Homo sapiens: one gene and its partner. The protein of the gene in region 1 interacts with the protein of each later gene in a pairwise test. Each region holds a gene or a part of one and is shown on either strand. Other genes may lie near its edges.

Region 1 (3,500 bases):
GTGTGCTCTAATTGATTTCAGAATTTGGCAATGCAGCCACTTCTCTGACAGCAAACCCAGATGCCACCACAGTAAACATTGAGGATCCTGGTGAAACCCCAAAACATCAGCCAGGATCCCCAAGAGGCTCAGGAAGAGAAGAAGATGATGAGTTACTGGGAAATGATGACTCTGACAAAACTGAGGTTTGAACTTGTCTTTGAGATATTTTTTAAACAATTTTTAAAGCTTGTTTATGTGCTTATTCACTGTCTACTGTGTGCCAGGTACAGTGTCAGGCAATGACAGCTCAGAGGTAAATGACACATGGCCTCTTCCTTGGTGGGGGAAACAGGCAAACAGACCATTACTTTCCGTAAGTACACTTGTGGAGGGGAACACTGGGGTAGTGAGCAGAGATCCTAGCTTATGGAATGTGGGACTCCCATGCTCAATATTTTCTAATATTAGAGTAGGAAAGAACCTTCATGGCCCTCTGTTTTAGCCTCTCTCCTGAGATATTGATGCTGTCCTTGCTATGTAGGAAAGATAACACTTGGAGCCAGGCGTGGTGGCTCACGCATATAATCCCAGCATTTTGGGAGGCTGAGGCGGGCAGATCACTTGAGCCCAGGAGTTCGAGACCAGCCTGGGCAACATGGTGAAACTCCACCTCTACAAAAAGTACAAAATATTAGCCGAGTATGGTGGTGGACACCTGTAGCCCCAGCTACTCGGGAAACTAAGGTGGGAGGATTGCTTGAGCTTGGGGAGTAGAGGTTGCAGTGAGCTGAGATTGCACCACTACACTCCAGCCTCGGCAACAGAGTGAGACCCTGTCTCCAGAAGAAAGAAAAAAAAAAAAAGGAAAGATTGAAAACACTTGCTTGAGTACCTCCAGGAATGGGCTGTTTACCACCATGTAAGGCAGTTGCTGCCACTGTCGACTTTAATTGTGAAAATGTTTTTCTTTAATGTTTTTTCTTCGACTTTTATTTTAACTTCAGGGGTCATGTGCAGGAGGTACAGGTTTGTTACATAGGTAAACATGTGCCACAGTGGTTTGCTGCACAGATCACCCCATCACCTAGGTATTAAGCCCAGCATCCATTAGCTCTTCTTCCTGATGCTCCCCCTCCCATGTGTCCATGTGTTCTCACCATTCAGCTCCCACTTATAAGTGAGAAGATGTGGTGTTTGGTTTTCTGTTCCTGTGTTAGTTTGCTAAGGATAATGGCTTCCAACTCCATCCATGTCCCTGCAAAGGACATGATCTCATTCCTTTTTCTGGCTGCGTAGTATTCCATGGTTGTATATATACCATATTTTCTTTATCCAGTCTATCATTGATGGGCATTTAGGTTGATTCCGTATCTTTGCTATTGTGAATAGTGCTGCAGTGAACATAAATGTGCATGTATCTTTATAATAGAATGATTTATATTTCTCTGGGTATATACCCAGTAATGGGATTGCTGGGTCAAATAGTATTTCTGCCTCTAGGTCTTTGAGGAATCGCCACACTGTCTTCCACAATGGTTGAACTAATTTACACTCCCACCAACAGTGTAAAAGCATTCCTTTTTCTCCGCAACTTCACTAGCATCTGTTGTTTCTTGACTTTTTAATAATCACCATTCTGACTGGCATGATATGGTGTCTCATTGTGGTTTTGATTTGCATTTCTCAAATCAAGATATTGAGCTTTCTTTCATATGTTTTTTGGCCACATGTATGTCTTTTGAGAAGTGTCTGTTCATGTCCCTTGCCCACTTTTTAATGGAGTTGTTTTTTCCTTGTAAATTTGCTTAAGTACTTTGTAGACTCTGGATATTAGACCTTTGTTAGATGGATAGATTGCAAAAATTTTCTCTCATTCTGTAGGTTGTCTGTTCACTCTGAAGATAGTTTCTTTTGCTGTGCAGAAGCTCTTTAGTTTAATTAGATCCCATTTGTCAATTTTTGCTTTTGTTGCAATTGCTTTTGGTGTTTTCATCATGAAATCTTTGCCCATGCCTATGTCCTGATTGGTATTCCCTAGATTTTCTTTCTTTTTCTTTTTTTTTTTTTTTTTGAGATGGAGTCTTGCTTTGTCGCCTAGGCTGGAGGCTCATTGCAACCTCCGCCTCCTGGGTTCAAGCGATTCTCCTGCCTCAGCCTCCCAAGCAGCTGGGACTACAGGCACGTGCCACCATGCCCAACTAATTTTTGTATTTTTAGTAGAGACGGGGTTTCACCATATTGGCCAGGCTGGTCTCGAACTCCTTACCTCATGATCCACCCATCTTGGCCTCCCAAAGTGCTGGGATTACAGGCATGAGCCACCGCGCCCAGCTGGTATTCCCTAGATTCTCTTCTAGGGTTTTTTTAGTTTTGTGTTTTACATTTAAGTCTTTAATCCACCTTGAGTTAATTTTTGCTTATGGTATAAGGAAGGGGTCCAGTTTCAGTTTTCTGCATATGGCTAGCCAGTTCTCCCAGCACTATTTATTGAATAGGGAATCCTTTCCCCATTGCTTGTTTTTGTCAGGTTTTTCGAAGATCAGATGGTTGTAGACGTGCATTCTTATTTCTGAGTTCTCTGTTCTGTTTCATTGGTCTATGTGTCTGTTCTTGTACCAGTACCATGCTGTTTTGGTTACTGTAGACTTGTAGTTTAGTTTGAAGTCAGGTAGCATGATGCCTCCAGCTTTGTTCTTTTTGCTTAGGATTGTCTTGACTATTTGGGCTCTCTTTTGATTCCATATGAATTTTAAAATAGTTTTTTTCTAATTCCGTGAAGAATGTCAATGGTAGTTTACTGGGAGTGGCATTGAATCTATAAATTACTTTGGGCAGTATGCCATTTGCACAATACTGATTCTTCCTAACTATGAGCATGGAATGTTTTTCCATTTGTTTGTGTCCTCTCTTATTTCTTTGAGCAGTAGTTTATAGTTTTCTTTGAAGAGGTCCTTTACTTCCCTTGTTCCTAGGTATTTTATTCTTTTTGTAGCAGTTCATTCATACAAAAGAACGAGAGTTCATTCATAATTTGGCCCTCTGCTTGCCTGTTGTCGGTGTATAGGAATACTAACAATTTTTGCACATTGATTTTGTATCCTGAGACTTTGCTGAAGTTGCTTACCAGCTTAAGAAGCTTTTGGGCTGAGATGATGGGGTTTTTTAGATATAGAAACATGTCATCTTGCAAACAAAGGTGATTTGACTTACTCTCTTCCTATTTGAATACCCTCTTCCTATTTGAATACCCTTTATTTGTTTCTCTTCCCTGATTGCCCTGGCCAGAACTTCTAATACTATTGAATAGGAGTGATAAGAGAGGGCATCCATGTCTTGTGCTGGTTTTCAAGGGGAATGCTTTCCTTGGTTGGGGATGGGTGTTCCTTTGTCTCCGTGCTGCTCCTGGGTGAGCCATCGCCCCACCCTGCTTTTCTTCATTCTCCGTGGGTCGAGCTACTTGCCTAGTCAGTCCCAATGCAAGAACCTGGGTATTTCAGTTGAAGGTGCTGAATTCATTC
Region 2 (4,233 bases), on another chromosome or scaffold:
TTTTCTGTCGAAGAGGCATATTTTGCGGTGATATATTCTGGTTTTTTCTTTTTCTTTTTTCATTGAGATGGAGTCTCGCTGTCACCCAGGTTGGAGTGCAATGGCGCGATCTCGGCCCACTGCAACCTCTGCCTCCCGGTTCTCAAGCGGTTTCTCCTGCCTCAGCCTCCCGAGTAGCTGAGATTACAGGCGCCCAAAACTGCACCCGGCTAATTTTTGTATTTTTAGTAGAGATGGGGTTTCGCCACGTTGACCAGGATAGTTTCGAACTCCTGACCTCAGGTGATCTGCCTGCCTCGGCCTCCTACAAGTGCTGGGATTACAGATGTGAGCCACCACACCTGGCCTTATTCTGGTTTTCTTTAGGTGTCTTCATTGAACAAGTAGGTATTGTCTGGCATACCCTTCTGGGTTATCTCGTCTTATGGGGTCTTACTTTTGTCTTTAAGCTATCTAGAGCTCTAGTGGAGCATTGTATATATACCATCATTAATGAGTTAAATGGTATCTTTGACATATGTTCATTTTATATTTGTGTGAGAGTCATAATTTTATTTTAAAAAAAAGATATGCTTTTTTTTTTTTTTTGAGACTGTTCACTCTGTCGCCCAGGCTGGAGTGCAGTGGCTTGATCTCAGCTCACTGCAACCTTCGCCTCCTGGGTTCATGATTCTCCTGCCTCAGCCTCTCGAGTAGCTGCTGGGATTACAGGCGTGCACCACTACATCCGGCTAATTTATGTGTTTTTAATAGAAACGGAATTTCACCATTGTTGTTCAGGCTGGTCTCGAACTCCTGACCTCAAGTGATCAGCCTGCCTTGGCTTCCCAAAGTGCTGGAGTTACAGGCGTGAGCCACCGCGCCCGGCCTTAAAATACATGTTCCTACTTTCAAACACTTAGGGCTTCCTATATGGAAGGGACAGTGGCGGTGCTCTAGTGTCCAAGTCCCTCAAGGAGGAGGCCGGGGGCTCCGCGGACCTCAGGAGTCAGGCCTCCAATCCCCAGTTCAGGGCGCTTTCCTCTTTTCCCAAGTGCTTTCTGGCTCAGCCATTTCCACTCCCGCTCCCTTACTTTCCCATTTCCTTCGGTCACATCCCCGCATATAGTACAGGCCACTGGAGCTGCCTCTGAGACACCGCCGCGGGCGCGGGTACACACTCCGCTAAGGGCATTCCCAACCCGGTTCCGCAGCCTAACGGCGTGGCTTGGACCCTGCTGCAGCCCGTAGCCCCTATCCTTTCTCCTCCGGACTTCAGTTTGGCGGCATCTCTGTCTTAGCGAGAGGGGCTGTGACTAAAAGCTGCCTTTTCTCAATGAACTGCCAGTTTGTAAGAGCCTCCGGGTCCCCTCAAACCGCCTCGAGCGCCCCTCTCCGCGAGAGCTGCGCGGCCGGAACTGCGCCGGCGTGACGTCACTGACCTCGTCGGGTTCACTTCCGGCGCTCGCACCGCCCCGCTCTCCAGCCAAGGCTCCGGGCTGAGGCATTTGCTTGGCTGCAGCCTCCTTCCGACCTGCCCGGCGGGACCCAGGGGACCAAGCCGAGCCGAGCCGCGGGGCCCGCTCCAGCCCGGCCATGAGCGCGGCCGCATGATGCGTCCCTGCCTCGGCCGCTGCAGTCGCCGCCGCCGCCGCCGCAGGCCGGGAGGAGCCGCAGCGCCGGGCGACCCCGCCCGGGCCTCGGGTGAGTGCGGCGGGCTGGGCCGGGCGGGCTGCTCACTCCCGGGTCTCCCGGCCACTTCTGGCCCCCGGCGTGCCCTGTCCTTCCGTCGGTTCCGCCGCTCTGTCTCCACCCCGCCGCACACCTGCGACCTTCTGGAGTTCCTAGGGGCACCTCCGTGCCCGCACCTGACTTCCCTTCCAGGTGCCCCCTTGTCATTCCTTAGTTGCTCTCTCGGGATAGGGCCCGGATTGCAGCCCCAGCTTTTTGCCTGACCTTGGGCGTGACACTCAGCTCTCCGAGCCCTGGTTTTCTGTGTGGCTAATGACGGGGTGGTGGTTACAGAGCAGCTATAAACCCTGTGTAAGCTGTAAAGAGTTTTTTAATAGGCAGGTATTACAATGAGCAGTCTCGCACTTCGCGTTGTGGCTTCTCTTCCTCTTAAGCTGTAAACTTTTCTCTTTTATTCTCTGCCCATCTTCCTAGTTATCTTCCCTCCTGCTCCACGTCAGTCATCTTTGGGTGTTAGTTGCCTGAAAGGGCATCTGGGACAGTAAAGCTTTCAGGGCAGTAAGGCTCACCTCTCCTGGTGTGGTTCCTTCTACAACTTTGTCACACTCAGTTAGATAGACACACTTTATTAGCTTATGAAGAACCAGTTTATTGTGGCCGTTAAATTGGAGTGTAAGAGACAGTGTTGATGCGGCTACCTGCCTTGTAGCTTCTTTTACTGTCTGGGCTGTATACAGTGCTGGGCAAATCGCTGCTACAGTGTTGCATTTTCAGTCTGCTTAGTGTATGCACTTAAGCGCACGTATTTATCTATTTTACTGTTACTATCCCAAGGGGTTTAGAGATTTAGGTCAATGTGTATTAATATTTCTTTCTGAACTCTTCATCTCACAGATGAAGAATCTCTTTTTTGTTATGTTTTACAGTGTTTACATACCTGAAATCACCTTTTAGTCACTTTGTGGCCTGGTACGCACGCGGTGGCTCGTGGCTCATGCCTGTAATCCCAGCGCTTTGGGAGGCTGAGGCAGGAGGATCACTTGAGCCCAGGAGTTGGAGAGCAGCCTGGGCAACATAGTGAGATCCCCTTCTCTACAAAAAAATTAAAAAATTAGCCGGATATGGTGGTACACGCCTGAGGTCTCAGCTGCTTGGGAGGCTGAGGTGGGGGGATCACTTGAGTTTGAGATCATGCCACAGCACTGCAGCCTGGGCAACAGAGTGAGATCCCCATCTCAAAAAAAAAAAAAAAGTCACTTTGTTAAATTCGCTTGTTAAAAGTCAGAACTTGGCCAGGCACAGTGGCTCATGCCTGTGATCCCAGCACTTTGGGAGGCCGAGGCGGGCGGATCACGAAGTCGGGAGATCGAGACCATCCTGGCTAACACGGTGAAACCCCATGTCTACTAAAAATACCAAAAATTAGCTGGGCATGGTGGTGGGCGCCTGTAGTCCCAGCTACTCGGGAGGCTAAGGCAAGAGAATCACGTGAACCCGGGAGGCGGAGCTTGCAGTGAGCCAAGATCGCGCCACTGCACTCCAGTCTGGGCGACAGAGCAAGACTCCGTCTCAAAAAAAAAAAAAAAAAGAAAAAAAGTCAGAACTTGGTTAAAGTGAAAGGCTCTTGGGATATTTGAAATATGGAATGGAACTGAAATATTAACTAAATTGCAATTCTTGAACATTCTGGAAAATAGGTTAGGGGCCCACATTGGCTTCTGATTTGAGAGTTGAAGGAGAAGAAGACTATTTGAAAAGGTAATTCCCAAAGGATTCGCTAAGTAACAATGGGAACTCTTCTGCTACCATTGGCTCAGAGCCTGCCTCAGTTGACAGATTAATGAATTGAAACTTTACAGCCCTGCTAATCAATGAACTGTAAAAACAAATCCTCTTCAAGAACAGAAGAGTATTAGCATGAATAGAATGGCCCTCTCAGTGAGAAAGAAAGCACTGAAATGAACTTTATATAAGAACAATCTTGATTCAGTCAAAAGTATGAACGTACTTTTACATTCTTACTGAAACTTACCTGCTGGCTTGGATGCTTTGTTGATATAAATAATACAATCTTTGTTAAATTAACAAAGAAAATGGGTGTAGAAATAAGTTCATGTAGAAAGTTAATGTTTGGGATGAACATTGAATAGTTTTCGTGATTGGACAACTATACAAGATAATTTTACTAAAGCAGCTTTTTGGGGTATGTTTCTGTAATATTTTAACTTTAGAAGTACTTTTTTTTTTTTTTTGAGACGGAGTTTCGCTCTTGTTGCCCAGGCTGGAGTGCAGTGGCTCGATCTTGGCTCCCTGCAGCCTCTACCTCCTGGGTTAAAGCGATTCTCCTGCCTCAGCCTCCCGAGTAGCTGGGATTACAGGCCTGAGCCACCGTGGCTGGCTAATTTTGTATTTTTAGTAGAGACAGGATTTCTCCATGTTGGTCAGGCTGGTCTCCAACTCCTGACCTCTGGTGATCCGCCTGCCTCAGCCTCCCAGAATGGTGGGATTACAGGCGTGAGCCACTGTGCCTGACCCTTTTTTTTTTTCTTCAAACCCTAGAGC

What was found. The genes of interacting proteins can lie anywhere in the genome.
Region 2: the proteins of YIPF1 (region 1) and ZDHHC7 interact in binary tests that used the Homo sapiens proteins (3 or more experiments, as listed by UniProt).

Annotation. Positions count from the first base shown.
Region 1 is NC_000001.11:53,879,798-53,883,297, reverse strand, and holds part of YIPF1 (protein YIPF1), read left to right. Parts: intron 1-21; coding exon 22-185; intron 186-3,500.
Region 2 is NC_000016.10:85,008,736-85,012,968, reverse strand, and holds the start of ZDHHC7 (palmitoyltransferase ZDHHC7), read left to right. Parts: upstream 1-1,433; 5' UTR 1,434-1,683; exon of another isoform or gene 1,684-1,863; intron 1,864-4,233.